Linked DNA regions of Homo sapiens: regions 1, 2 and 4 are each linked to region 3. Evidence: fine-mapped expression QTL. A gene starts in region 3. Each other region holds a variant in brackets. All regions are shown on one strand. Distances are from middle to middle.

Region 1 (8,522 bases), 64 kb before region 3:
GATGAATTTGATTAACACATACTCAAAATGTGGTCAGAAGTGGAAAAGACTTGGGAACATTCATAAGCCCAACTCACTGATCCACTATGCTTTGAGACTAATGGCACCTTTGTTGCGGAGCACACACAGTGTGTGTGTGTTGCCTGCCTATGGTTCTTCTCCATGACCCCTGCTTTGGCAGCTGTTTCCACTGACTCCACTCTCCTACCTGCCAGTTCATGTTGCTATTAAGTGACTATCAAAACAAAACGTACTTTCTTATTTCTTGAGAATAAATCGAGGGTAGAGAAGGACTAGTTCTGTGCCAAGAACTTCCTCCTCTCTCTCTCCCTCCTCTTTCTTGTGCCCATATCCGTGTCCCTGACCACCTCTCCATGTCCCCTGTACCTGTTTCTTTTTTGCCCTTCTGTCCTTTTTCTTTTTCTTTTTCTTTTTCTTTTTGAGACGGAGTCTTGCTCTGTCGCCCAGGTTGGAGTGCAGTGGTGCGATCTCCACTCACTGCAAGTTCCGCCTCCTGGGTTCACACCATTCTCCTGCCTCAGCCTCCCAGTTAGCTGGGACTACAGGCTCCTGCCACCATGCTCGGCTAATTTTTTGTATTTTTAGTAGAGACGGGGTTTCATCCTGTTAGCCATGATGGTCTTGATCTCCTGACCTCGTGATCCACCCGCCTCGGCCTCCCAAAGGGATTACAGGCATGAGCCATCTCCTTTTTCATTGTTTCTTCTCTCTTTTTAGCCGTCTTTCATATTTCTCTTAACATTTTTATTTTTGAGAATTGGGAACTACAATATGGCAAAGAAAATAGGTAATAAAAACTCTTAGTGGCCAATCTGCTTTGAAAGCAGAGGTTGTGTTTCCAGGGCTGTGTCCCTGTGTGCTGATGTTTCTGGTTCTGGTCCCACTTCCCCATAGGTGGAGCAGGGTTGCATATTCACTCAGGACTTGCTTCCACATTGTAGACGCTAATGAGCAGTATTAGAAAAGACATGTCCAGGAAAAGAAATGGAAATGGGTTTCCAATGAAACACTTTTTGTCTTAAGTATCATTTTTGTTTTCAAAGTTATGTAAATAAATATAAAAAATAAATAGGGTTTTTTGTTTTTTGTTTTTGTTTTTGTTTTTGAGACGGTGTCTCACTCTGTCGCCCAGGCTGGAGCATAGTGGTGCAATCTCTGCTCACTGCAAGCTCTGCCTCCCGGGTTCACACCATTCTCCCGCCTCAGCCTCCTGAGTAGCTGGGACTAGGGCAGGCGCCCACCACCACACCTGGCTAACTTTGTTTTTGTATTTTTAGTAGAGATGGGGTTTCACTGTGTTAGCCAGGATGGTCTTGATCTCCTGACCTCTAGTGATCTGCCCGCCTCGGCCTCCCAAAGTGCTGGGATTACAGGTGTGAGCCACCATGCCCGGCTAACAATTTGAGGTTTTAAATGTATTTCCAGATATGCCTTGAACTTAGTTTTTATAATTATAGAAAATGTTTAAGTACAAAGAGAAACATTATTCATGGTCCTAGCATTCAAAAGCAGTTTGATGTATTTGTTGTCTTTTTTCTACTGATAACGTTAATTAAAATTATACTAAATATCAGCCTGGACAACATAGCAAGACTCCATCTCTACCAAAAAATTAAAAAATTAGCCGGGCATGGTGGCATACATCTGTAGTCCTAGCTACTTGGGAGGGTGAGGTAGGAGAATCACTCGAGCCCAGGAGTTTGAGGCTGCAGTGAGCTAGAATCATGCCATTGCACTCCAGCCTAGGTGAGACCCTATCTCTAGAAAACACACACACACACACACGCACACGCACACACACACACACACACAGCCCAACCCCCCCACCCCACCACCCCCCGCCCCGACCAAATTATAATTTTGGTTATTTTCCTTCATTAAACCACCTAGTCGATTTATCATTTTTAATGGCTGCATAATGGTCTATCCTGAATATAATTTGCTTTTTTTTTTATTATGTATTTTCTTTCTTTGTAGAGATGGTTTCACCATCTTGCTCAGGCTGGTCTCAAGCGATCCTCTGGCCTTGACCTCCCAGCGTGCTGGGATTACGGGCGGGAGCCACCACACCCGGCCATGAATATAATGTGTTTATTCGTTCGTTTATGATTTCTGATTTTTTACTCCTAAATAATGTAGTAACCTGTGCTACATTGTATTTTTTATATGTTCATTTACTCCGTGGAATACTTCTAAAATAACAGTAAAATGACAAAGGAATGCCTATTTTTTCATGAACTTTTAAAAATACAGAAAGCATAAATAAAATTAATGCCATCTGTAATCCCACCACAACTTAATGTTAACATTTTAAATTATTTCTTTTTTTTTCATACATATGCATAGACAATTACTGGGTTTTTGTTTTGTTTTTTGTTTTTTTTTCAAGCGACATTGTGATTGTATTCTTTTATACCTTATTGGGTTTGTTTTTTACTTACCATGGTAAAAATCCATTTGAGTGAGCATTCTTGAGTGGTTTTGCATTGTGTCTTCACACAGTTGTACCATAATTGAAGCTGCTTTTGGCCTTGCTCTGGTAAAGCAGTGTAGCACACACTCTTAATTTCTAAGGAAGTGTAGCGTTCCCTTGATGAATCAGGAGAGAGATCATTGAACTTGGTGTATGAGGTACTCTGGTCTGTCTTTTCAAGCTTGGGGTAAGTAGGCATCTGCAACTACCAGTCATATATTTTGTAACCCACTGGCCCGTGTGTGCCCTGATTGCTGAGGCTAGACAGATCCATCAGGGCTTAGACAGTTAGTGAGGGTCCTGGGAGTAGGCGAAGGGAAGTCCAGTTAATGTGTGAAGCTGCTGGGAATTGTGTAGTTGGCAGAGATTTGAGCAGGTAAAGCTTCCGATGTGGACCAAGTACAAGTACTAAGATCACGGCACATCCTCTAAAAGGAAGTCAGATATTTGGGACTGTCCAGGAAATCTGGGAGATAGTGTGATGGTGGCATAGCTCTTTCTCATCTGACACTTTTTATGCTTACTCAGAGTACGAATGCCAAGTATTGAGACGATACAGAATAATATTTGAATTGAGATATTCCTAGAAAGACAGGTCAACATGGCTCTTGGTCAAGAATGACTTAGAGTTCCTTGCCTAGTGCTCAGCTGGCTTCATGTCATAGTTGAGGCTGGGTCCACAGGTGGGATAAGATTCCACCAAAGCTCACCAGGCTGGTACTGACCCCAGAGTGTCTCCCAGGCCCTACCTTATTTTAGCATTCTTTTGAATTGAGTTTCAGAGGTGATTCAGTAGTAAATGTATGGGGAGAAGAATTAGAAAAACCCATCTCTTTTTAAGCAGTCATCATTCTTAAACATCTGAATTGTTTTACAACAGAGTCAGCAAACCTTTCTAGCATTTCTAAAAGATGGCAGTTTCTTGGAGACCACATCTTTGCAAGGCAGTATTTTCAAAATATAAAATAGCCCCCAAACCAAACCTTTAAACATGAAGGGCAAATGGGTAAAGACTTAATATTCTTTTTGTGTCAAGTATACTTAATGTAAATCTAGTTGCTTGTGAAGTAGTAAAATAGTAATAGCTCCTATTATTTTGAGCACTGACTATATGTGCTCAGCCTCTGTGCTTGGATCTGACATCACTATCTCATTTCCTTCTCTCAGCAGTTCTGGAAGGAGTACCTACCCTGGGTATGCTTTGCCCAGGGTCACAGAAGTTACTGAATTAGAGCAGGGATTCACCCCAAGTGTAAAAACTCAAGAGCTCCTGCACTTAGGGGTTTACTTCACTAATCATCTAACCTCATTTATTATGCTTAAGGCTTTTTCTCAGCTGACCTGACTTTGCTTTAGGTCATTCTTTTTTATGCCAGCACTGTTTGAAAGTGCATGTCAAGCGGCTAGCTCCACATTTGGTCTTCGAAAGGGAAACGCATGCAGTTAAAACGTAATGTACATGATGGAATTGGGAGGATCATAGTCTCAGTTTCCCCCCCCCTTTCTCCCATCTAGGAGACCTCCATGGACTGCAGCAAAATTAAAAATAAAGCACAGACAACAGAATTATTCTTCACTGAGAGAGTTTAATATGCGTTTCTAACACCATCTATACTTGCTTTGTTGTTCTTGAGGTCATCAACACACATTCTGGTTATTCCAGAGCTAGAAGCTCTTCTGGTTGCTAACTCAGTTATAAGAAGATGAAAGACATAACTAGACTTACGTATTTCAGTAGTTTGCTCTTTAATTTTTCCCTTACTCTTAGTTTCAGGCGACCTCCAAGAAGGGTATCAGTCGACTGGATAAACAGATGAGAAAGTTCACAGATATAAGGAAAAAAAGCAGATCTGCACACGCAGTGAAAATCAGCATTGAGGGCAACAAAATGCCATTGTGACCTTGCCTGGAATGTGTCCCCATCTCTACTCTAAGAAATGCGCAATGGACTCTTTGGAGAAAGAAGATATTTTAAAACATTTTTAGTGTGTCT[G/A]TAAATGGTTCAGCGTGTATCAGATGTTGTCATAGGACTCACATTTCTCTCAGTTATATTTAAAACCGTTGTGTACTTTGTACAAAGGAATACTAGTCATACTTCTATAAACTTTACACAATAAAATTTCATTCTGGTTTTTGGGGGGCTGTCTCTTCATTTCTTAGAGGATACATTCTTAATAGGGGCAAAGATTGTTTCTTGTTGTGTGGGAAAAAATCTTATGATATTATAGGGGTTTGTGACCCTTAGAGGTTCAATCCTCCCTCATTGTGGTATAATGAGGAATTTGTGTGGCCTTTGCCCCTGGTTGCTGACAAGGAATGTCTAAAACACTTGTGGTTTCCTGAGTGATAGAGCGTCTCTTGTTATGCTAACGAGGTGACTGTATGGTGGGCTTTAGGGTGGAGGCTGGTAACCAGAAACAGCTACTACAGAGGGTTGGGCCAGCAGGACCCGGGAGATTGAGACGCAGTCAGTGACCTGTTTGATTTAATCAACCATGCCTGCCAAATGGGACCTGATGAAGAGCTCTGGACCCCACAGCTCAATGACGCTTCTTGGTTGGTGAAAGCATTGGTGTGCTGGGAGGGAGAGGATTCCCCTCCATGAGGACAGGGGCACAGAAGCTCTGCCTTCCCTCCCAGACCTTCCCTTATGTATCCCTTCATTTGACTGGCCCTCCTAATTCATATCTTCTGTAGTAAAACTAATCATAGTGTTTTCTAGGGAAGGATAGTGCTTTCCTGAGTTCTGTGAGTCATTTCAGCAAGTTCTTAAACCTGAGAGGTTTATGAGAACCCCAAATTTGTAGCTGGTCAGAAGCGACAGTAGCCTGGATGCCTCACTTGTGGCTTGCATCTGAAGTGGGGGCAGTATTGTGGAGGACTGACCTCTTAAACCCGTGGAGTCTGATGCCAGCTCTGGGTGTGTCGTATCAGAATTGAATTGCAGTACCTCAGTTGGGGTGGAAATGGAATACCAACAAAATCTTATTAATGTGTTTCTCTTATTTGGGATAATTATTTTGATTTTCATTTTTCTCTGGGATGGGGGCTTATAACAGAGAAAAGATCAAGAAATACTACTGTCTTCAAGGAAATATGGATATAACTGAAAATCACTATGCCGAAAGCTTAGAGCAGTTGAGCAGTTAGAGGAGAGAGAAAAATTATAGCTTGTAGCTATGTTTCTTGTTGCTCTATTTTTGTGATAATAGTCTCTATAGACTTAATTATGAGAGGTCTCTTAAGGTCAAGATGACGAGGCCCAAGAACGTTTTATCAACTAGATTATTTTAATTTCAGAAATCCTATTCTGATACGGATTGGCACCTTGATCTTCAGAAACACATAAAACTACTTTTGGCCAAAAAAGCCTTTGAACAGCTAAAATAATGAAGTTTAGATACTAAAACACTGCTCACAAGAAACTCTCAAACTATTTACTTCCAGCAAACGCAGAAGCACAGTGGGATATAGTGCTTTGTAAAAAGCAGGTGCATAAAGGCATTAGAAGGTAATAGCTAGCCACTAGATGGAGACAAAAACCTAAGCTTTTCTGCAATGTTTCATACAAATACCCTCAAAAACACTTGAGAAGGAAAAAGCAGAGGCATCTAGTGAAGCCTTACACTGATCATTAAAAAATAAATTTGAAACAAAGACAACAAAGGTTGTATTTAAGAAAGATTTTTAAGTTACACAATTTTGTCATTTAATGGGGTAAGCTCCAATTACCTGAAAATTTCACTATTACAGGGTAAAACTTTAACGATGTTGGCAAGTAAAAAGTTTTAAACCATACCCGGGGAATTCAAAATGGTAAGAGATTCTCCTGTACTGTGTTTGAAGGAAAAAATTAGTTTCTATATAAATGATCCTTGGTGTTGGTTTTATGGCAGCTCAAACCTAGCTGGCCAGAAAAACCTTTAATTTTGAAGATATTTCCAATTTATAGTAGTTGCAAAAATAGTAAATAAACTCCGGTATACTCACTGATATTTACCAAGTGTTAACGTTTTGCCACGTCATTGACTCTGTCATCTTGTATATGCATAGAGCTATTTTTGCAGACTCAGAGTAACTTGCCGACAACTTGCCCCTTGAGCCCCAAATACTTCAGCATATTTCTTCCAAGAACATAGACTTTAGTTTTGTCCCAGAATTGATGATACTAACTTTGACAACTTGGCTATGATGATACAGAGTTGTGGGGGATTTTGTTTGTTTTTTAAGAGATGGGTTCTTACTGTGTCGCCCAGGCTGAAGTGCAGTGGTGTGATCCTAGCTCCCTGCAGCCTTGAACTCCCAGGCTCAAGCAATCTTCCTGCCTCAGTCTCCTCCCAAGTGGCTGGGACTATAGGCATGCACTCTCATGCTTGGCTTTTTTTCTTCCCCTTCCGGTTTTAAGATTTACTATCTTAAACAGTTTTACCGCTCAGTGGCATTGAGTATGTTCACAATGTATCGCCATCACCACCATTCATCTTCAGAAATCTTCTCATCTTGCAAAATTTTAACTCTACCTATCAAAGAACTCTCCTTCCTCCCCCAAGCTCTTGGCAACCACCATTCTACTTTCTGTCTCTTACGAGTTGTCTGTTCTAGGTACCTCATATAAGTGGAATCATACATTTGTCTTTTTGCGACTGTCTTATTTCACTTGGTATAATGTCCTCAAGGTTTGTCCATGTGTCCAAATTTCCTTGCATTTTAAGGTTGCATAATATTCCAGTGTGTGTATATACCACATTTTGTTTGTCCATTCATCTGTCAATGGACACTTGGGTTGCCTCCACCTTTGGCTATTGTGAATAACGCTGCTGTGATCATGGGTGTACAAGTATTTGTTCAAGACCTTTTTTTCTTCACTTTTAGAGATATTAAAAAACAACCATTTTTTTTTCCAATTCTTTTGGTTATATACCTAGAAGTAGAATTGCTAGATCATATGGTAATTCCATTTTAAATTTGTTTAGAAAGTGCCATACATACACTTTCCATAAGGGGCTACACAATTTTATATTCCCACCAATAGTACACAAGAGTTCCAATTTCTCCATATGCTTGCTAACACTTGTTATTTTTATTTTTTGATGGTAGCCATCCTAAGTGATGTGAGGTGGTATCTTGTGATTTTAGTTTGCATTTCCCTAATGATAGTGATGTAGAGCATCTTTTAATGTACTTTTTGACCATTTATATATCTTCCTTGGAGAAATGTCTATTCAAGTCATTTGCCCAGTTTTATATTGGGTTGTTTGGTGTGAGTTGTAGGAGTGCTTTGTGTACTCATGTTAATGCTTTATCAGCTATATGATTTGCAAATACTCTCTTTCATTCTTTAGATTGCCTTTTCACTCTTGATTGTGTTCTTCGTTGCACACATTTAAATTTTGCTGTATCTCACTTTTTTCTTTTATTGCCTGTGCTTTTGGTGTCATATCAAAAAAATTATTGCCAAATTCAATATTATGAAGCTTTTACCCTATAATTTTGTAAGTTTAGTTCTTATGTTTAGGTCTTTGATCCATTTCTAGTTGATTTTTTGTATGTTGTGTAAAATAAGGTTCCAACTTTATCCATTTGCATATGGATATCAAGTTTCCCCAGCAACATTTACTGAAAAAAACTTATTTTCCCCATGGAATGGTCTTGCAAGTCTTTTCAAAAATCATTTGACCATATGTGTAAGAGTTGATTTCTGGACTTTCTTCTTTTCCATTGGTCTGCATGTTGCAATATAGAACTGTCTGTGTGTCTGTCCCCACTGAAGTCAGGACGTGTGAGTCTTCCAACTTTGTTGTTTTTCAAGATTGTTTTGGCTATTTGAGATTTCATGTGAATTTTAAAATGGATTTTTCTATATATGCAGTAAACATTATTGGTATTTTGTTAGGAATTGCATTGAATCTGTAGAGGTGCTCTGGGTAGTATTGACTTCTTAACAATATTAAGTCTTTGAATCATGACCATGGAATATCTTCATTTATTGGTGTCTTCTTTAATTTCCTTAATGTTTTGTAGTTTTCTT
Region 2 (5,890 bases), 26 kb after region 3:
AATGAAAAGAGAATCCTTAGCACACCTAGCACCAGATATTGGTCTCTAACACCATTCTCCAACAAAAGAAACCAGGGCCCTTTGGAAAAATGGCTGATTCTAGACTGGGACAGGAAATATTCAAGATGATTTTGGAGCGCTGGCAGTGCCAGAAAGCAAAGAAGTGCTGAAAAAGGAAAAAAAAAATCATAATGATGGGTGTCAAAGGGACACAGGAGACAAATCAAAGAGCTACCAATGGCCAAACCCAGAATAATTAGAGCAACAAAATAAGTAATGTAGTATTAGATTATAACCCAGAGCATAAGTTATATACCCACAATTCTATATTAATATAAATAAAAGATTACATAAGTAAACAGGAGAGAAGAGACAGATCTCACATGCAGAAGAATTCCTAGTAATTTATGCAGATACTTCACACACAAGGAGGTGGAGCATAGCTCCCCACTCCTTAGGTGTGGGCTGAGCATAGTGACTTCCTTGCAAAGAGTATAGTATGGAAAGAGGTGAATAAAGAGTAGCTTTATGGGGGAGAAACCTGACAAACACTATCTCAGGCAGGTGATCAAGCTCAACACCAAGTCATAAATCATACTGACAGTATATACCTGCTATGGTTTGAATATGTCCCCCAAAGGTCATGTTTTGGAAACTTGATCCCCAATGCAACAATGTTAGGAGGTAGGACCTTTAAGAGGTGTTTAAGTTATGATTAAGTTATGAGGGGAGAGCCGTCATGAATGGATTAATGTCATTATCTAGGGTGGGCACCTTATAAAAGGATGAGTTTGACTCTTCTTGCTCTTTCTCTCATCTTCTCTTTGCCCTTCCCCCACAGGATGACACAGCAAGAAGGTTCTTGCCAGATGTGGGCCCCTCAATCTTGGACTTCCCAGCCTTCAGAACTGTGAGAGATAAATTTCTGTTCATTACACATTACCCAGTCTGTGGTATTTTGTTACAGGGCACAAAATGGACTAAGACAATGGACTACCTTTGATAGGATGTGATAAAGATGGCACTTTACTTCAGTGGTCTCCTTCCCCAGAACCCATAACCTCAGTGTCATCATGAGAAAAACATTACATGATTCACAATTGAAGAATATTCTACCAAACACCTAACCAGTATTCCTTAGCACAAGGCCATCAAAAACAAGGGAACTCACAGCCAAGAGAAGCCTAAGGAGACGTGATGACTAAGCATAGTGTGGGCTCCTGGAACACAAAAAGGGCATTAGGAAAAAACTGAGGACATCTGAATAAAGTATGGACTTCAGTTAATGACAATGCATCAATATTGGTTCACTAGTTATGACAAATGTACTATACTAATAATACAAGTTCGTAATAATAGGTGTATTAGTCTGTTCTCACATTGCTATAAAGAACTACCTAAGACTGGGTAATTTAAGAGGAAAAGAGGTTTAATTGACTCACAGTTACACAGGCTGTACAGAAAGCAAGGCTGGGAGGCCTCAGGAAACTTCAATCATGATGGAAAGTGAGGGGGAAGCAGGCACATCTTACCATGGCAGAGCAGGAGAGAGAAACATCAAAGGGGGAAGTGCTGCACACTTTTAAACAACCAGATCTTGTGAGAATTCACTTGCTATCACAAGAACAGCAAGGGGGAAATCTACCCCCATGAGCCAATCACCTCCACCAAGGCCCCTCCTCCAACACTGGGAATTACAATTTGACATGAGATTGGGTGGCCATACAAAGCCAAACCATATCAATAGGAGAAAATGAATGCTGAATGTGGGTATAGGAGAAGTCTCTGTACTATTGTCTCAGTTTTTCTGTAAACCTAAAACTGTTCTTGTAAACAAAAAATAAAATTCTAAGGCCCCCAACCACCTGAATAGACCCCTCCTCTTGGCCAAGGGCACTCCAATGTTAACCTGAAAAACCTAGTTCAGGCTGTGAAGGAAAGGGGGAGCTGGACATGCCTCATTCTACCCTCTTCCCTTTTGGAATTTCTGACAGAACAGACTCTTTAAGTTCAATAAGAAACATGTACAATCTATTGTCTCTGAAGCCTGCTATCTGGAGGCTTCATCCACATGATAAAACCTTGGTCTCCATAACCCCTTACGGTAACCCAGAAATTATCTTCTATTGATAGTAACTCTTTCAACCAATTGCCAATCAGAAAATCTTTGAATCCATCTATGAGTTGGAAGCCCCCACTTCCAGTTGTCCTGACTTTCTGAACCAATGTACACTTTACATGTATTGCTTGATGCTTCATGTCTCCCTAAAATGTATAAAACCAAGCTGTAATCTGGCCACCTTGGGCACATGTTCTCATGATCTCCTGAGGGCTGTATCACAGGCCATGGTCACTCATACTTGGCTCAGAACAAATCTCTTCAAATATTTTATAGAGTTTGACTCTTTCGTCAACATTCTAAAATAAAAAGTTTATTTTAAAAAAGAATGAGGGAAAGAAACAGAGGGATGGTTCCCCCTTCTTTACTGTGTGGGAGGTCATGTTTGGAGCTGAGGTGGCCGTCCATTGATTCTCAATATGCCTGTTCACAGCCCTAACCAACCTTGGATCCATCCACTGGATTTTTGTTATGTGACAAAATCAACCTCACTGTTTAAGCTGTTTTGGGCCAGGTGTCTTGCTCGCTGCAGTTGAATGCATCCCAACCAATAGTACTCGTATCATTTTCATGGCCACAGCTGTGGTTTAGACCTTTAGACTTTCATCTCCC[T/C]TCCCAGCAATTTGGCCTGCTCTAATATTCCTCCTTCCCAATCTCCTGGCAGCTCTCTTCCTTCTCTAGCTTCACCCCCTGCCTGCATTTCTCTCAACACCCAGTGGCCAGCAACTCTTGCCATTCCTAGGCAGGGCACGTTCCCTCATACTTCCAAGCTTGGACACACTTGATTCCCTCTGCCTGGAATGCGTACTCCTCCATCCTTATTTCTTCCAGCAAATAACTACCCCCGTTCAAGTTTCAGTTGCCAGCCATGGCACAATATGTGGCCAGCAAGATTCTAAGATGTCCCTGCAGATCCCTGACGGCTGGTGTACATAGCCTGCATAACCCTCAGTACTGTGAATATAATGGATTATACTCCTATGATCAGGTTATGTTATGTGACACTGTTGATGTTAAGAATAGATTATCTCAGTGGGCCTGATCTAATCATATGAACTCTCTAAAAGCCGGGTGCAGTGGCTCATGCCTGTAATCCCAGCACTTTGGGAGGCTAAGGTGGGCAAATCACGAGGTCAGGGGTCCGAGACCAGCCTGACCAACATGGTGAAAACCTGTCTCTACTAAAAATACAAAACTTAGCTGGGCGTGGGGGTGGGTGCCTGTAATCCCAGCTACTCAGGAGGCTGAGGCAGGAGAATCACTTGAACCTGGGAGGCGGAGGTTGTAGTGAGCCGAGATTGCGCCATTGCACTCCATCCTGGGCGACAGAGTGAGACTCTGTCTCAAAAATAAAAAAATAAATAAAAATAAAAGCAGAGAGTTTTCTCTGGCTGGTAGCAAAAGAGGAAGTTAGAGAGAGATCTGATGTAGGAGGATGTTTGGCACGCAAGAAGGTCTCTGTCGCTGGCTTTCAAGATGGAAGGGGTCATGTGGCAAGGAATGCAGGTGACCTCTAGGAACTGAAGGCAGGCCCAGGAAATAGGGATGTCAATCCTACAACCACAGGAAACTGAATTGTGCCCCAAAGAAGAATGAGCTTGGAAGATCTTTGCAAGGGCCTCTAGATAAAAAGTCAGCCCAGCTGATACCTTGATTTCAGCCTTGCAATATACCCTGAGTAGAGAACTCAGCCTTGCCCCTGTGCAAACTTCTGATCTGTATAACTGGGAGCTAAAAAACAGACACTGTTTTAAGTCACTAAGTTTGTGGCAGTTTGTTATGCAGCAACAGAAAAGGAACATGCCACATTTCCTCTCTGAAGTCATCTCTCACTTCCCCAGACACACCTGTGACATCTTCCTCTTGCTGCTGTGGTGCCTGATACACATCCCTCCCATGATGCAGGTCACAGTGTGTTATCATTATCCATTTACCTGTCTGCCTTCCTCACAGGATTCTGAGTTCCTGGGCAGTGGGGACTATATAATTTTATCACTGCAATCCCAGGCACAGAGTAGGAAGGCAAAAAAATATTCATTGAATGATGGTTTCATCAATAAAAAAATCCCAATATCACTAATTTGTAATCATATATACTAAAATAACCAAAGATGTCAGAGATTTAATATCTAAGCAAGAGGAAAAGTCACCAATATAAAAGGAGAATGGCGAAAAAGAAAGAATAGCTACTATAACTATACCCACGGGATGTTTCTGAGGAACCCAGAGGTGAATGAAGTCCCCGGGGTGGTAAGTGAGGGAAGGGAGTGGAGAAATGAGCAGCACTATGAGGGGAAAAAATTTATCTCTAGATTACTTAGTAAACAAACACGTTTTTATTGAATGCCTGCTATGTGGTGACCCAGTAACTGTGGAGAACAATATAGATATTTAAGATTTAAATACTATCCTCCGGCGTTCTGAGACCCTCCTTTCTGTGGCATACAGGTCTTAGAATGTTAGATTCAAGAAGGTCTTAGATTTATGCATAAGTCCCCCATTTTTTAAACAAATAGAAGCAAACTGATTTTCCACTGACCTCTGTGTTTCTGAGGTGCACATCCTTGTTCCTGTGACTTTGACACCTCTGTTAATGGGTCTGTAATAAAAATTCCTGGAAGAAACCCAGAGATATTTTGACATTACACAACAGTTTCTCCCTCAGTCTCTGCCCCACAAGTGCCAGCTCCCTTGACCCTCAGAGCCCAAGTTGGGTAGCTCCTTACCTCTGGTTCGGGTGAGTCCCATTCCCATCTCTCTCATTTCAACTGCTCCAGTGGAAATGTGGTCTGGAATATGCATGAAAGGGGTGGATCCAGAATGTACGAAGAAACCAAGAAGAAGCTGAACAGGGAAGAATGGTACAGGAAGTTGTAAGGGGTATTTAAGGAAAGGAGAAGAGATGGGGCGGAAAGGTGCTTTCTGGATCAAAGTAGGGTGAAAACGTCGGGATGCAGGTTAGTCACACCACGGAGGGCCTCACCACTAGTCTGATTAATTTGCATTTTATCCTGTGGGAGATGAGGAGCGAAAGAAAGGGTTTTAGACTCTAGCTTTGGGGGTGGGGTGTCAACTCATGTCTCTGGGCTTAAGTTTCCACATCTGTTAAGCTGGAGAAGTAATACTTGCTGGGCTAACCAATGTACACAACCAGTCATAACCAAGTATCGATGGTGATAAGAACTAAACAGAAAACACAAATAACACTTAGCCAGTCTCCAAGGGGGTGGTTTAAGGTTAGGTGGCAAGCCTGAAGTAATTTCTAAAGTCCCTCAGGAAAAAAATTCTGAAACTTGAGCCACAAATTAAGAGGCAGACGGCTTTTCTCCTTGCAAATGACCTGCCACACAGTCCGTCACTGCCTCTGCTAGCTCTGCTACCCTTGGGCCCTGTCCACAGCCCACGTGGGAGACCTTTTCACGGGATCTACTCGGATGTCTGGGATCTGGCCACTACCGCAGGCTCGAGACAACCCAGGTGCGTATGCGCCGCGCACACGGAACAGCACAGGCTGCCCCGGGGCAGGGGCGGGGGCGGGGCCGAGGCCGGGGCGGAGCCAGGACTGGGAATCCCCGCGCCGTCCGGCCGGTGGGGGCGGTGGCCTGTGTGTGGGCGTGGCGGGCCTCTGCGCAGGCGCCGACCCACTCCCCTGGGCCGGGCGCGCGCCCGCGGCGGGTTCCGCTACCGCCGGGCGGAGGGGTGCGCGCGCACGAGCGAGCGGCCGTGACGTGCGCCGCGCTACGCCCGACGTCACGGGTCCGTGTGTAGTGG
Region 3 (8,178 bases):
ATGAGGGGGTCTGAGGAAGCAGAGCTGGGAGAGCCTGGGAAGGTCTTGTCTCCGCCCCCTCAAGACTCATTCTAATTCTAGGTCATGGCTTGGCGCAGGGGTCCTCTGCTCTTTTCCTCCCCAGGAAGCAGATGGCAGTTGGAGGACGAAGCCTTGCTCTGAGATGGACAGGCCTCCCTGTGAACCCCACCCCGATCTCTGTGTGACCTTGAGCCAGTGTCTTTACCTTTCTAAGGTTCAATTTACTCATCCAAAAACATGGGGATGAGACCGTCATGTAAAACATCCAATACAGTCCCTGGCCCAGAGATAAGTACTCAAGCCCTGGCTGCTGCTGTAAAGGCTGCCAAGTTAAATCCTCTCACTCTTCTGCCAGTACACCACGTGCAGCCCCATCTTGACACATCCCCCCAGTCTTCCTCTCCTCCCCCAACCAAGTATTCCCCATGCTTCTCCCCTTGGGCAGGGACACCTGGAGGATAGACAGACCTATCACCCAGGAAGGGTCCCCAGGTGTCTCCTGGGCTCTGTGAAGTGTCTGTCTTGGGTGCAGGGCACAGTTAGGAGGGAGAGATCAAGTTGGGGGTGTGAGCAAGAAGGGATGGGGGAAAAGGCATCCTAGAGGAGGGTATGCCTGAGCTGAGGGCACCTTGGGAAAGGGTGGAGGTGCAGGTCCCAAGCAGATAAACAGCTCTATAAAGGCACAAATGAAACCAACAGCCTGGTGTGGCTTTAGGGGCCCATGTGTCCTGCGGACCTCCCCAAGAATCATGGCCTCCTCCCGTTGGCTGTGGAGACCAGGAAAGGGGTTGGGGCAGGGCAGCCATGAGGCCAGTGTGCATTTGAGTAGGGGAGGCTGTGCTGGATAGTGTGGACGGTAGCCTGGGCCTGGGGTCTTCACAGTTGAGGGAGTGAGTGGGTGGAGAGGGAAGGCCCAGGGGACTCTGTGACCATCCCCGTGTGGAGGAGGGAGCTTTAGGAGGTCATCGCGGGGCTCCCTGCCATCACGCATGCCTGCCCTGGCAGCCCCTGTGTGGCACTCTGGCAGCTGGCCTACCTGGGACTTGTCAGTTGATTCCTGCCATTCCCATCTGCCCCTCACCTCACCCAGGGCTCAGAGAGATGGTGGAAGCTGTGAAGGCCTGGGCAGATGCCCACCAGGGCCTTGTAGAGGCCACAAGGGTCCCGGGGTAGGGGTGGGGTGGCCTTACCAAGAGGAGCTGGTGTGCCGGAAATTCCCCAGGTGGCCACGAACAGCAGGAGGCTTGTGAGCTGCCACATTCTGGAGGCACTGGCACCTGTCTGAGGAGGACTTCTGAGCTCCGGGCAGTGCCTACCCCCGCTGCTGCTCTGCCTGCACCCCCAGGTGGAAGCGGAATGAAAGGGCTGTCCCTGTGTGCTGGCCGTCAGGGCGGAAGCTGGGATTGAGGGTCCTTGTTCGCTAGAGACATAGCCTCAGAAGGCCTCGGCTGCCCGCTCTACGTGGGGCTGAGCTCACACTGCCTGCCTAGAAAGCAGCTCCAGAATGCAGTGGAGAGGGTGCCAGGATGTTTGTGTCCTCCCTGGGGACAGTGGGGTGGCTGCCTCTGCCGGTCTGATGACTGGGCTGAGAATATTAGCTAACGTTGATTGGACACTCATGGTGTCTTTCAAACAATTTTTACAGGATTCACAGGGCAGGCCATGAAGCCAGACTGCACGGTGCAAATTCCAGCTCCAGCACTTACTGGAGGGCAATGTTGGGCAAGATGCTTAACTGCTCCATGCCTCAGTTTCCTCATTTGTAAAATGGATGGAATAACGTGGTGTATCTGTGCCTTAAAGGGTGTTGTGAGAATTAAAGGAGTTAGTCCACATAAAGCTCTCAAAACAGGCTTTGCACATAGCTCATGCTCAGTAAACATGAGATATTATGACTTCAGTTAAGGCTCACAACCACCCAAGAGGTAGTTATTAATGCTGTCAACCCCATTTCATAGAGGGGGAAACTGAGACTCGGAGGAGTTAAGTGGTTTATTAAAAATCCAACCCTTGCTGGTCTCCGTTGATTGCACAGGGAAGTCACCAACCCAGGGGATCGATCAGATTCTGTCCCCCATCCTCCAGGAGTAGGGTCTCACACCATCAGTACACTGCAGGCACCAGACTCGGAAGACTGAGGCAAGGTCCTGGGTCTCCATGTTTACATCCATGCATTACTCGCAGAGCCAGGACTCAAGGCCAGGCCTGTGTGGTTTTAGGCCTGGAAATTCAACCCCTGCCCCAAACCACCAGGTGCTCCAAAAGGCCACAGAGATAGCCCTGGTGGCCAGAGATCAAGGAACCCTCCCCAGTGGATAGGCCACGTGGCCCTCTGCACACCCTACCGGACCCTGCTCTCCATTCTTGCCGACTCCCTCTGAGGCCACTTCTGAGATTTGTTCAAATCCGACACCCCCAAAGGTGGAAGTGGGGTGGGGAGAATGGAGGGTCCTGGGCTCCAAACTGTCTGTTGGAATGGCCCTGGGCCCTGGGGACCCTTGGCCTGGAAAGAGGGAGGCGCATGGCAAAGGGACCTGAGACTGTGGCTGCCAGGCCTGGCCTGTGGAGGGCCTTGTGTCCTTTCACCCCAAGCTCAGGCTTGTTGAGCACCCTGGCTGGAGGATTCAGCCCTCATCACCACCTAGCTCTCTTCTCCCGGGGGCAGCCCTCCCTCCACACCCCTCATAGACCTGCCTGGAGGGGGACTCACAGGGGCGGGTCGTGGAGATACTGCAAGTTCGCCGTCCTGCCGCCATGACAGCCTGGAGTTCGAGTTAATCCATAACCACAAATATTTGCTTGGCCCTCAGCACTGAGGCCTCCCTCTCCATAGACAAACAGTGGCACTAGCACTCCTGGTCCTAGCTCAGCACGGCTTGTTCTGCCCGAAGCCCACCTCTGCCCACCAAGGATGCCGTCCAGCAGGGAGGGAGGTGAGGGCAAAACCCTTGACAGATGTGGTCTCATTTTAGCCCCATAGTGGCTGGCTGAGGGAGGAACGTTGTCCCTGTTTTTCAGATGGGGACATTTTTGCCCAGAGATATTATAGTTTGCCCAAGATCAGCACAACAGGTAATATTCCATATTTCGTCAAATCTAAAATACCATTAATTATAAGACACATGTATTTATGTGCCACCATACAAGAAAAAAGACGCTGTCCCAATGACATGCCATCCCAATTTCTGATACATAAAATCATGAGAAGATGCTCCTTTTTGGGTCCCCAGTGCATAGGTGCTGGGCACTGGGCTCCACCCTCACCTCCAATTGCTCACAAATCACCCCCAATCCCCACCCCCAACACACACACACAATGGCACATAGCATCCCTCTAACCTCTATTTTTCAGGTAAGGACACTCAAGTTTTGTGTTACTCGCCCAGATTCACTGAGCTGGTAGTTGGCAGATTTAATTTGAACTCAGGTCTTGCTGCTTCCATTTGGCCCCTTTTGTGGACCAGTAAGAAAAATGAACGGGATTCCAGAAAGGCTGCAGCAATTTCCTGGCCGGGGTGCCAGAAGGGAGAAGGGCAGAAATAAAGGGTCCAGCTCAGCACCTTTGCCTGTGTCCTGCAGTCTATCAGCATTTATTAAGCGTCTTCCTGCTCCGAACCGGGCTGCACCAGAGATGCCCCCCTTTCCTCCCTGCCCTACCTGTTCCTGGGAAGACTTGCCCACGTTCCTTCTCCAAGTCTGCACCTCTAAACGGGGCATGTGACCCTGCCTCGCTGGCTTCCATTGATTGCACAGGGAAGTCACCAACCCAGGGGATTGATCAGAGGAGTAGGGTCTCACACTGTCAGTACACCATAAGTACCAGACTCGGAAGATTGAGGCCAGGTCCTGGGCATCCATGTTTACGCTTAAAGCAGAGGAAGCTGATGAGAAGGAAGATGCAGGTGTGCAGAGGGGGACTGAGGCCACGGACACCTAGAGAGTCCCAGGGAGCAGCGGAAGGAGGCCCCTGCCTCCTTATGATTGGTGGCACATCCTGGCTTCGGGTGCAGGAGGGTCCCCATGCCCTCCTAAAACCCTATTCCTCCTGAAGTTTCTTTAAATTGGCTGGAACAGCTTGTGTTGATTGTAACCAGATGCCTCCTGCTGAGGCACCACACCATGCTGGGCTGTGGTGGTACCAGGCCCTCCTAGAGGAACAGGGTAAAACTCTAACACTCTAACAAGTCAGGCCCACCTTGCCCAGGGGCAGGTACACATAGGAAATGCTTACAGAATTCAGAGGAGAGGGCAATCAGTACAAGCTGGCATAGCCAGGGGAGGCTGCCTGTAGGAGGTGACACTTCAGCTGGACATCAAAGAGCAGACAGGAGGAAAGACATCCCCCCCAACCCCACCCCAGGTTGGGAGACAGTGGGGAGACACAGAACACAAGCAGTCAGGAGGTGCTAGGAGGGGTGGAGGTGGAGAGGAGGTGGAGGGTGAGGCAATGGATTTTGAAATCGAGACTATGAGAAGTGGAGAACCAGGAGCTGTTTGTGACAGGCTGTGGCAGCTGCCTAGAAAAGCAGAGACAAGCTTCTGGGAACTCAGACAGGAAGCATGAAGACCCCATGCACAACCACAGAAGGCACCAGCTTGTATGTCCCTGTTTGCTTCAGGCGTCGCCCCCGCAAGTCTGCAGAGATCACTGCCCTCTGCTTTGCCTTCCAGGTGCAAGATGTTGTGGGTATTCTTTTGGCGCCGCTTCCCTTCCCCACCAACTTCTCGCCCTCTACTCCTCCCCACCCCAGCACAGGCAGCCGCTCCAGGGCAAGTCTATGCAGGCTCCACACACTGATTCTGACCTGCATAAATGGACTCTGCCCGGGGCACCCATGTCCAAACCAGCCCAGGTGCCCAAAGCACCGGCACCGGTACGAGCCAGGGCGGCTGCAATGCTCCCAAGTGCCCAGTGCTGGGGGTTGGGGGTGCCACGGCTTGGCAGGCTGCCCAGAGGGCGGAAGGGTCCTCTGCAGAGCTCTGCACGCCTGTCGGCCGACGGGGACTCTGCACGGCGGGCTGCGTCACGGCCGCCTCATCGGCTGGCAGCGCAGGAAACCCCGTCACCTTCTCGAGGTAGGGACAGTCCTGCCGCCAGCCGTTCCTGCGATCCCAGGGTCTCTGCAGTTACACCTGGTTCCAGCCGGGGGCGCCGCGCCGCACCGCTCCTGCGGAGGAGCCAGGCGCCCTTCACAGGCGCGGCCTCACCCGCTTTACTTGTCAGGTGTGAGTCGCCCCACGTGCACCCGAACGCGGTCAGGTCCACCCAGGAAGCCGGAGCAGGACTTTGGGCAGCGAGCTCGCTGTGAGTTAGAGAGCAGAGGGACACCTGTGGCTAAGGAATTCGCTGCATGGATGAAGACCCAAGCAAAGGAGCTAGAACCAAATGTGTGTGGGGCAAGGCCAGCCACAACTACCGGAGCAGGCGGGGTTCCAAAGCCCTCAGCTCTGGAGTCACGTTCCCACGGCCTTAAACCTCCGCTAGCCTTTTTCTGACAGGGGGATTTAACTTCCCTGTGTCTCAATGTCCACATTTGTAAAATGGGGTCAGCGTCCGTCTCAGGTGACTGTTATAAGGGTCACGTTAAATCTTTTATTAATTTTTTAATTAAAAAAGTTTTGAAACAGGGTCTCTCTGGCTCTGTCACCCAGGCTGGAGTGCAGTGGCGGGATCACAGCTCTCTGCGGCCTAGATCTCCTGGGCTCAAGCGATTCTTCTGTTTCAGCCACCTCAGTAGCTGGGATCACAGGCCCGTGCCACCACGCCCAGCTGATTTTTAAAAATTTTTAGGAGAGAGGAGGTCTTGCTGTGTTGCTCTAGAACTCCTGACCTCAAGTGATCCTCCCTCCTCAGCCTGCCAAAGTGCTGAGATTACAGGCGGGAGCCACTGTGCCTGGCCTTATTTTTAAGTATTTTATACAAAGTGGACATGGCCTGGGACTTAACAGGACTTCCCACAGGCCTGGGAAGGTCAGGGAGGGGCCGACTAGGAGGGGAAGGGGTCAAGGACAGCTGCTGCTGTGTGGAAGCTCAGACTGCACAGATCCGTTGTACAGATTAGGGCTGATCATTCAGTCAGCCCTAACCTGTACAACACTCCCCACCCCTTGCGTTTTGGCCCTGGCTCTGCCAATAGATGCCAGAAACCCAACTTGAGCTCACTCTGCTGAACAGTGATGAGAGATGGGCTGGTGGTCAGGGCTGACGGGACTAAGGTTCCTTCTCACCCCATGCCACTCCCCTGTGTGGGCATTGCCCATTCTCCATTCTCTCTGCAGGGACGCTGTGCTGCTCAGCCCACCCCAGGCAGGGCAGGGAGGACAGACACTAGAGAGGCTCCCGGGAGCTCCCTGGTAAGAAGTGGAGTGGGATGGATGCAGTCCAACGTCTCTCTCTTTTGTTGTTGTCAGGTTATTGTGGTATAATTTACACACAGGGAAACTCACACTTTAAAAATGTACAGTTCTGCTTGTTTTGACAAATGTATGTTATAGTGCATCCACCACCACATCATGATATACACATTTTCATCACCCTCAGAAATTCTGTGTTCCACCCCAACTCTTGGCAACCACTGATTGGATTTCTATCTCTATAATCTGCATTTTCTAGAATAGCATATAAAGGGAATCCTACAGCACATATATATATTTTTTTGAGTTGGTGTCTTGCTCTCTTGCCCAGGCTGGAGTGCAGTGGTGTGATCTCAGCTCGCTGCAATCTCCACCTCCTGGGTTCAAGTGATTCTCCTGCCTCAGCCTCCTGAGTAGCTGGAATTACAGGCACACGCCACCACACCTGCCTAATTTTTGTATTTTTTAGTTTCACCATGTTGGCCAGGCTAGTCTTGAATTCCTGACCGCAAGTGATCCGCCCACCTCAGCCTCCCAAAGTGCTGGGATTATAGGCGTGAGCCACCGTGCCCAACCAGTACATAGCTTTTTAAGACTACCTTCTTTCACTCAGCATAAAGCTTTTGAGATTTATTCATGTGGAATTCTATATCAGTACTTTATTTCTTTTTATTGCTGACTGGGCTCCATTATATAGATGTGCCACAATCTGTTATCCATTTGCCAGTTCTTGGCTATCATTAAATTAAGCTGCTAGAACATTTATGTATAGGTCCTTGTGTGGGCATATGTTTTCATTTCTCTTGGGTAATATCTAGGAATAAGATTGCTGAGTCATGTGGTGAGTACGTGTTTACTTTTGGGAAAAAAAAATAAAGTCAAACTTTTCCAGAGTGGTGGTGGCATTTTGCATTCCCACCAAGCAATGTCTGAGTGTTCCTGTTGCTCTGCATCCTCACCAGCATTTGGTGTTGTCGGTTGTTTTTTAATTTTAATTTTCAATTTTTAGCCTTCTTAATAGATGTGTAGTGGTATCTCATTGTAGCTTTAATTTTCATTTCCCTCTTCTCTGGTGATTTTGAGCATCTTTTCCTGTGCTAATTTGCTATTTATATCTTCTTTGGTGAAGTGCCAGTTTAAGTCTTTGGGCTGTTTTTTGTTTGTTTCTTTGTTTTTGAGGGTTTTTTAAATTGAGTTTTTAGAATTTGTATGTATCCTAGTAACAAGCCCTTTGTCAGCTAAGTATTTTGCAAAAATTTCCTCTCAGTCTGTGACTTGTCTTTTATACTTAACAGTGTCTTTTAATGAACAGATGTTTGTAATTTTGATGAAGTCCAATTATCAACATTTTCTTTTATGATTCGTGCTTTTGTGTCCTACCAAAGAACACTGCCTTATTCAAGGTCACAAAGGCTTTCTCTTATGTTTTCTTCTAGAAGCTTTATGGTTTTTCACTCTTACATTTACATCTCTGACCCATTTTGAATTCGTTAATTTTGGTATATGGTGTGAGGTAGGGGCCAAGAATCATTCTTTAAAATATATGGAGATCTAGTTGTCACAGTCCCATTTCTTGCAAACACTATCCTTTCTCCCATTGAATTGCTTTGGTGCTTTGTTGAAATCAATTGACCGTATATGCATACATCTACTTCTGGACTCTATTTTGTTCTGTTAATCTATCTTTCATTTTTATGCCAACATTATAATGTCTTAATTGCTATTACAAGATTCAAGTAACTCATGAAATCAAGTAGTGTAAGTCCTCCAACTTTGTTCTTATTTTTCAAAATTGTTTTGGCT
Region 4 (6,593 bases), 150 kb after region 3:
TTGCTTCACCTCTCTCTGCCTGCATCAGATAGACCCTGGTATAAAGAGGAGAAAAGAGTGATTATGTTTCAAAATTATCTACAGAACTTATTTAAATTCTGGATCAGTTGACTTTTTTTTTTTCCTCATATATAAAAACCTTCCAACTTGTTTCTGTAGGTAGGTGACACTTCGTTTGATCTGCCGGAAGCAAATGTCCTCATTCAGATCTCATCCCATGGTGGCTCCAGGCGTCAGGAAGCCCAAAGGCTAGGGCGGGTGCTTCGAGCTAAAAAAGGTAAAGTGGCCTTTCATCTTCTGTTGCAGGAGGTCACTCCTCTTAAACCACTTTAGTTAGGAAGACGATAGGGGTGAGAGCTGCCATGTGCCCTGGGGCTAAATAGACTCTGGAGGGAGAGAATCCCAAAGCAAAGACCTAGATCCTTATGGCCCATCATTATTTCTCATACCTTGGGGGTGAATATGCAGGTGTTTTCCATGACAGTGTCACGGAATCCACACAGATGTGCTCTGTACACTGTGCAGCTGTGTTGGTAGATGGTGAGAGGGAGCCAGGGCAAGGCAGTGCTTATGGGGTAGACATGGAAGGGAGAAAACAGAGCTGGGCCACCAGTGTAAGTGGAGGAGCTGGAAGCTGCTTCTGGAACTTGATCAGGAGGCAGGGAAAGGTTTGGTAGGAGCAGCTTGGGCAGACACACAATGGGCACGTCATTCATAACCTGTGCAGAGTGCCGCCCTGGTGGCAGCTTGCAGCAGGGGCAGGGCAAGCTCAGTGAGTGAGGAGGTGAGAATCCTCATTGCAAAGGCTTTTTCTGAGGAGGCGTGGCACCCCTGTGCTTGCTTACTGCGGTAAAAGGGCCCAGACTGCCATTGTGGACATGGCAGGGACTGACACTCTTGCTAAGAGATGGCCGTGTCTGTCTTACTGGGACCAGGGCACATCCTGAGACAAGGACACAAGCCCTATCCTCAAGGAGTCTGCTTATTCAAGGAGGCATCTGGACTGCTAGAATGTTTGAAAATGACAAGATTAGTGGGCATCTGTTGGAACTGTACTGCGTTCAGATGTGTTTAAGAAGCGTCTAGTAGCTTGTATTTAAAATGGAGATGAGGCAGATAGCATGGACTAGAAATAGCATGGACTCAGGCACCAAGCCAGCTGTGTCACCTTTGGCAAATTATTTTCTCCTCTGAGACTTGGTTTTCCCATCCAAAGTGGGGGTGACAATCCTGTCTTGCCAAGACTGCTGTGAGGATTCAGCTTATAAGTCATAAAATGTAGTCGGCTGGCTGGGCACAGTGGCTTACACCTATAATCCCAGCACTTTGGGAGGCCAAGGCAGGAGGATAGCTTGAGCCCAGGAGTTTGAGACCATCTTGGGCAATGTAGTGAGACCCCATCTCTACAAAAAATAAAACTAGCTGGGCGTGGTGGTGTGTACCTGTGGTTCCAGCTACTTGGGAGGCTGAGACAGTAGCTTTTATAAACTGACAGGACTATGATCTGCTAGCAAATGTGAATATAATTCATTACTTATTCCTTACTCTAATTTGAAAACTCCTTTATTGATTGATTGATTGATTGATTGATTGAGATAGAGTCTTATTCTGTCACCCAGGCTGGAGTGCAGTGGCACAATCTCGGCTCACTGCAACCTCCATCTACTGGGGTCAAGTGTGATTCACCTGCCTCAGCCTCCCGAGTACCCGGACTACAGGCGTGCACCACCACGTCCAGCTAATTTTTTTTGTATTTTTAGTAAAGACGGGGTTTCACCATTTTGGCCAGGCTCGTCTCTAGTGATCCACCCACCTTGGCCTCCCAAAGTGCTGGGATTACAGGTGTGAGCCACTGTGCCTAGCCTTAAAAACTCCCTTAAATGTGAATAGAAGGCCAGGCGCGGTGGCTCACGCCTGTAATCCCAGCACTTTGGGAGGCCCAGGCAGGCAGATCATGAGGTCAGGAGATTGAGACCATCCTGGCTAACATGGTGAAACCCCGTCTCTACTAAAAATACAAAAAATTAGCTGGGCGTGGTGGCGGGTGCCTGTAGTCCCAGCTACTCGGGAGGCTGAGGCAGGAGAATGGCGTGAACCCGGGAGGCAGAGCTTACAGTGAGCCGAGATTGCGCCACTGCATTCCAGCCTGGGCAACAGAGCAAGACTCCATCTCAAAAAAAAAAAAAAAAAAAAAAGTGAATAGAATTGTTTTCTTACTCAAAACACTGTTTAACATGACACTTGGCTCCTTTCTTTGCATCTCTGAGCTCTTGTAAGATTTGAGAAACAATTACATTCAAGGGCAGTATGCTTAACCTACTGACATTTGAACTACAAAGCAAAGATGTTCAGATTTTCCTGAAGGATCAAGTCTTTCAGGCCACAGAATTTTCTGTCCTAGTTTTTTAATACAGTAGTCCCCCCATATCTGCAATTTTCCTTTCCACATTCAATTACGCATGGTCAGCTGTAGTCTAAAAATATTAAATGGAAAATTCCAGAAATAAACAATTCATAAGTTTTAAATTACACACTATTCTGAGTAGCATCCATGATGTGAATTCTTGCTTTGTGCGGCATATTCATGCTTAAATTCTCCCCACCCATTAGTCACTTAGTAGCCATCTCAGTTGTCACGGACTGTCACTGTATCTCAGTGCTTGTTTTCAAGTAACCTTTATCTTACTAATGGCCCCAAAGCACAAGTGTAATGATGCTAGCAATTCAGATATGCCAGAGAAGCTGTAAAGTGCTTTCTTAAAGCGAAAAGGTAAAAGTTATTAATTTAAGCAAGGGAATAAAAATCATATGCTAAGGTTGCTAAGATCGAGGGTGAGAATGACTCTTCCTGCTGTACAAGATGATCATCCCCAGAGCACATAGCCGTCAGACTTTCCAAGGTCAATACAAAAGAAAGAATCTTAAAGACAGCTAGAGAAAGGGTCATATAACTCATCATGCTAACAGCAGACTTCTCAGCAGAAACTTTACAAGTCAGAAGAGATTGGGGGACTGTTTTTAGCATTCTTAAAGAAAAGAAAAGAAATCCTGGCTGGGCACGGCGGCTCACACCTGTAATCCCAGCACTTTGGGAGGCCAAGGTAGGCAGATTGCTTGAACTCAGGAGTTTGAGACCAGTCTGGGCAACATGATGAAACCCTGTTCCTACAAAAAATACAACAATTAGCTAGCTGGGTGTGGTGGTGTGCGCCTGTAGTCCCAGCCACTCCGGAGGCTGAGGCAAGAGAATCGCTTTAGTCTGGGAGGCAGAGGTTGCAGTGATCTGACATCTCACCACGGTATTCCACCTTGGGCAACAGAACAAGATCCTGTTTAAAACAAAAACAAACAAAAAAACAGGCCAGGCGCGGTGGCTCACACCTGTAATCCTAGCACTTTGGGAGGCTGAGGTGAGTGGATCACCTGAGGTCAGGAGTTCCAGACCAGCCTGGCCAACATGGTGAAACCCCATCTCCACTAAAAATACAAAAATTAGCCGGGCGTGGTGGCAGGTGCCTATAATCTCAGCTACTCAGGAGGCTGAGGCAGGAGTATTGCTGGAACCCAGGAGGCAGAGGTTTCAGTGAGCCGAGATTGCACCATTGCACTCCAGCCTGGGCAACAACAGCAAGACTCTGTCTCAAAACAAAAAAACAAAAACCAAAAAACCATAGTGAGACCCAGTCTCTTTAAGAAAAAAAATAAAAAAGAAAAATCCTAACCAAGAATTCCATATCCTGCCAAACTAAGCTACATGAGCAAAGAAGAAATAAAATCTTTCCCAGACAAGCAACTGCTAAAAGAATTTGTTATCACCAGACTGGCCCTACAAGAGAGTCTTGAGAGTTCTAAACATGGAAATGAAAGAATGGTGACACCTGCTACCACAAAAATACACATAAGCACATAGCCCACAGACCCTGTAAAGCAACTACACAATCCAAACTACAGAGCAACCAGCTAATGACACCATGTTAGGAATAAAGCCTCATGTCTCAATATTAACCTTGAATGTAAACAACCTAAACACCCCACCTAAAAGACTTGGAGTGGCAAATTGGATTAAAAACAAGACCCAGCCTTCTGCTGTCTTCAAGAGACCTCTCTCACATGTAACAGGACTCATAGGTTCAAAGTAAAGGGATAGGGAAAAAAATCTATCACACAAATAAAAAAAAAAAAAGAGTGGGGCAGGGGGTCACTATTCTTGCATCAGATAAAAGAGACTTTAAACCAGCCACAGTAAAAAAGGACAAAAAGGTCATTACACGATGATAAATGGTTCAATTCAACAAGAAGACTTAACTATCCTAAATATATATGCGCCCAACATTGGAGCACCTAGATTCATAAACCAAGTACTTTTAGAGCTAGGAAAAGGCTTAGACAGCCACACAACAATGGTAGGAGATTTTGACACCCCACTGACAGCATGAGACAGATTATAGAGGCAGAAAACTAACAAAGAAATTCTGTACTTAAAATTCAACACTTGACCAATTGGACCTAATAGGCATCTACATAATTCTCTACGCAACAACCACAGAATATATATTCTCATCTGCCCCCAGAATATACTCTTAAGATTGATCACATGGGCCTGGTGCCGTGGCTCACACCTGTAATCCCAGCACTTTGGGAGGCTGAGGCCGGCAGATTGCCTGAGCTCGGGAGTTTGCAACCAGCCTGGGCAACACGGTGAAACCCC[G/A]TCTCTACTAAAATACAAAAATTAGCTGAGTGTGGCGGCATGCGCCTGTAGTCCCAGCTACTCGGGAGCCTGAGGCAGGAGAACTGACTTGAAGCCGGGAGGCAGAGGTTGCAGTGAGCCAAGATCATGCCACTGCACTCCAGCCTGGGGAACAGAGCAGGACTCTGTCACAAAAAAAAAAAAAAAAAAAAAAAATAATTGATCATGTGTTTGGCCATAAAGCAATGTGAGACTTTATGCTCGACTTTATTAAAGTCTCAATAAATTCGGCAGGGTGTGGTGGCTTACGCCGATAATCCCAGCACTTTGGGAAGCCAAGGCGGGTGGATCACGAGGTCAGGAGATCGAGACCATCCTGGCTAACACAGTGAAACCCCGTCTCTACTAAAAATACAAAAAATTAGCCGGGTGTGTGGTGGCAGTTGCCTGTAGTCTCAGCTACTCGGGAGGCTGAGGCAGGAGAATGGCGTGAACCTGGGAGGCGGAGCTTGCAGTGAGCCGAGATCGCGCCACTGCACTCCAGCCTGGGCAACAGAGCGAGACTCTCTCAAAAAAAAAAAAAAAAAAAAAAGACTCAATAAATTCAAAAAAGTCGAAATCATACCAAGCATTTTCTTGGGTCACAGTGGAATAAAAGTAGAAATCAGTACCAGGAAGAACTCTCAAAACCACACAATTGGCCAGGCACAGTGGCTCATGCCTGTAACCGCAGCACTTTGGGAGGCCAAAGTGGGAGGATCATTTGAACTCAGGAGTTCAAGACCATTCTGGGCAACATAGCGAGACCTCATCGCTAAATAAAAGAAAAAAGAAAAAAAAAAACCCACACAATTACATAGAAACTAAACAACTTGCTCCTGAATGACTTTTGGATAAACAAATTAAGGCAGGAATCAAAAATTATTTGAAACAAATGAAAACAGATACAACATACTAAATCTCTGGGGTACAGCAAAGGTATTGTTAGGAAAGTTTATAGCACTGAACACCTACATCGAGAAGACAGATTTCAAATTAACAATTTGAGATTTCACCTGAAGGAACTAGAAAAATAAGAACAAGCTAATCCCAAAACTAGCTGAAGAAAAGAAATAACTAAAATCAGAGCAGAACTAAATGAAATTCAGACTCAAAAACAATACAAAGGATCAATGAAATAAAAAGCTGGTTCTTTGAAAAGATAGATAAGGCCAGTCGCAGTGGCTCATGCCTGTAATCCTGGAACTTTGGGAGGCCGAGGTGGGCGGATTACAAGGTCAAGAGTTCAAGACCAGCCTGACCAACATGGAGAAACCCCGTCTCTACTAAAAATACAAAAATTAGTCGAATGTGGTGGCGCATGCTTGTAATCCCAGCTACTCAGGAGGCTGAGGCAGGAGAATTGCGTGAACCCAGGAGGCAGAGGCTGCAGTGAGCCGAGATCGCACCTCTGCACTCCAGCCTGGGTGACAGAGCGAGACTCCGTCTCAAAAAAAAAGATAAATAAGATTGATGGACTGCTAGTTAGATTAACAGAAAAGAGAAGATCCAAATAAGCAGAATCAGAAATGACAAAGGTGACATCACAGCTGATCCCCAGAAATACAAAAGATTCTCAGAGACTTAAAAATACCTCTGTGCACACAAACTAGTAAATCTAGAGGAAATAGATAAATTCCTGGAAACATACAACTTCCCAAGATTGAATCAGAAATTAATTGAAACCCTGAACAGATCAATAAGGAGAAATTGAATCAGTAATTTAAAAAAAAAATATGGCCCCAGGCATGGTGGCTCACACCTCTAATCCCAGCACTTTGGAAGGCTGAGGCAGGTGGATCACCTGAGGTCAGGAGTTCCAGACCAGCCTGACCAACATGGTGAAACCTCGTCTCTACTAAAAATA

Alleles and levels. Positions count from the first base shown, and alleles are read on the strand shown. Sizes are in standard deviations (SD) of each study's normalised expression. Not every link is listed here.
For the expression in esophagus muscle of the gene that starts at base 2,797 in region 3, A is the high allele of the variant in region 1 and G is the other (large effect, 1.1 SD a copy in GTEx).

Evidence for each region.
Region 1: its variant is fine-mapped to the expression of PROC in esophagus muscle (GTEx, PIP above 0.99).
Region 2: its variant is fine-mapped to the expression of PROC in whole blood (TOPMed, PIP above 0.99).
Region 4: its variant is fine-mapped to the expression of PROC in whole blood (TOPMed, PIP above 0.99).

Annotation. Positions count from the first base shown.
Region 1 is chr2:127,476,916-127,485,437 of GRCh38, reverse strand. It overlaps IWS1 (interacts with SUPT6H, CTD assembly factor 1), which reads left to right. Exons shown (of 14, transcript NM_017969.3): 14 at 4,263-4,626. The coding sequence ends at 4,394. Among named protein-coding and RNA genes, the nearest start is that of IWS1, 45 kb to the left of the region's middle. RefSeq lists an enhancer at 4,680-5,631. The variant G/A (reference allele first, on the strand shown) is at 4,488.
Region 2 is chr2:127,387,954-127,393,843 of GRCh38, reverse strand. MAP3K2-DT (MAP3K2 divergent transcript) reads right to left here. Exons shown (of 4, transcript NR_187129.1): 2 at 4,846-4,963; 3 at 4,659-4,733. It overlaps MAP3K2 (mitogen-activated protein kinase kinase kinase 2), which reads left to right and starts at 5,869. Exons shown (of 17, transcript NM_001371910.2): 1 at 5,869-5,890. RefSeq lists a silencer at 5,580-5,890. The variant T/C (reference allele first, on the strand shown) is at 2,732.
Region 3 is chr2:127,413,046-127,421,223 of GRCh38, reverse strand. It overlaps PROC (protein C, inactivator of coagulation factors Va and VIIIa), which reads right to left and starts at 2,797. Exons shown (of 9, transcript NM_000312.4): 1 at 2,732-2,797; 2 at 1,212-1,302. The coding sequence starts at 1,281. RefSeq lists enhancers at 4,634-4,693, 5,074-5,836.
Region 4 is chr2:127,265,020-127,271,612 of GRCh38, reverse strand. ERCC3 (ERCC excision repair 3, TFIIH core complex helicase subunit) reads left to right here. Exons shown (of 15, transcript NM_000122.2): 12 at 160-277. Among named protein-coding and RNA genes, the nearest start is that of ERCC3, 26 kb to the left of the region's middle. The variant G/A (reference allele first, on the strand shown) is at 4,709.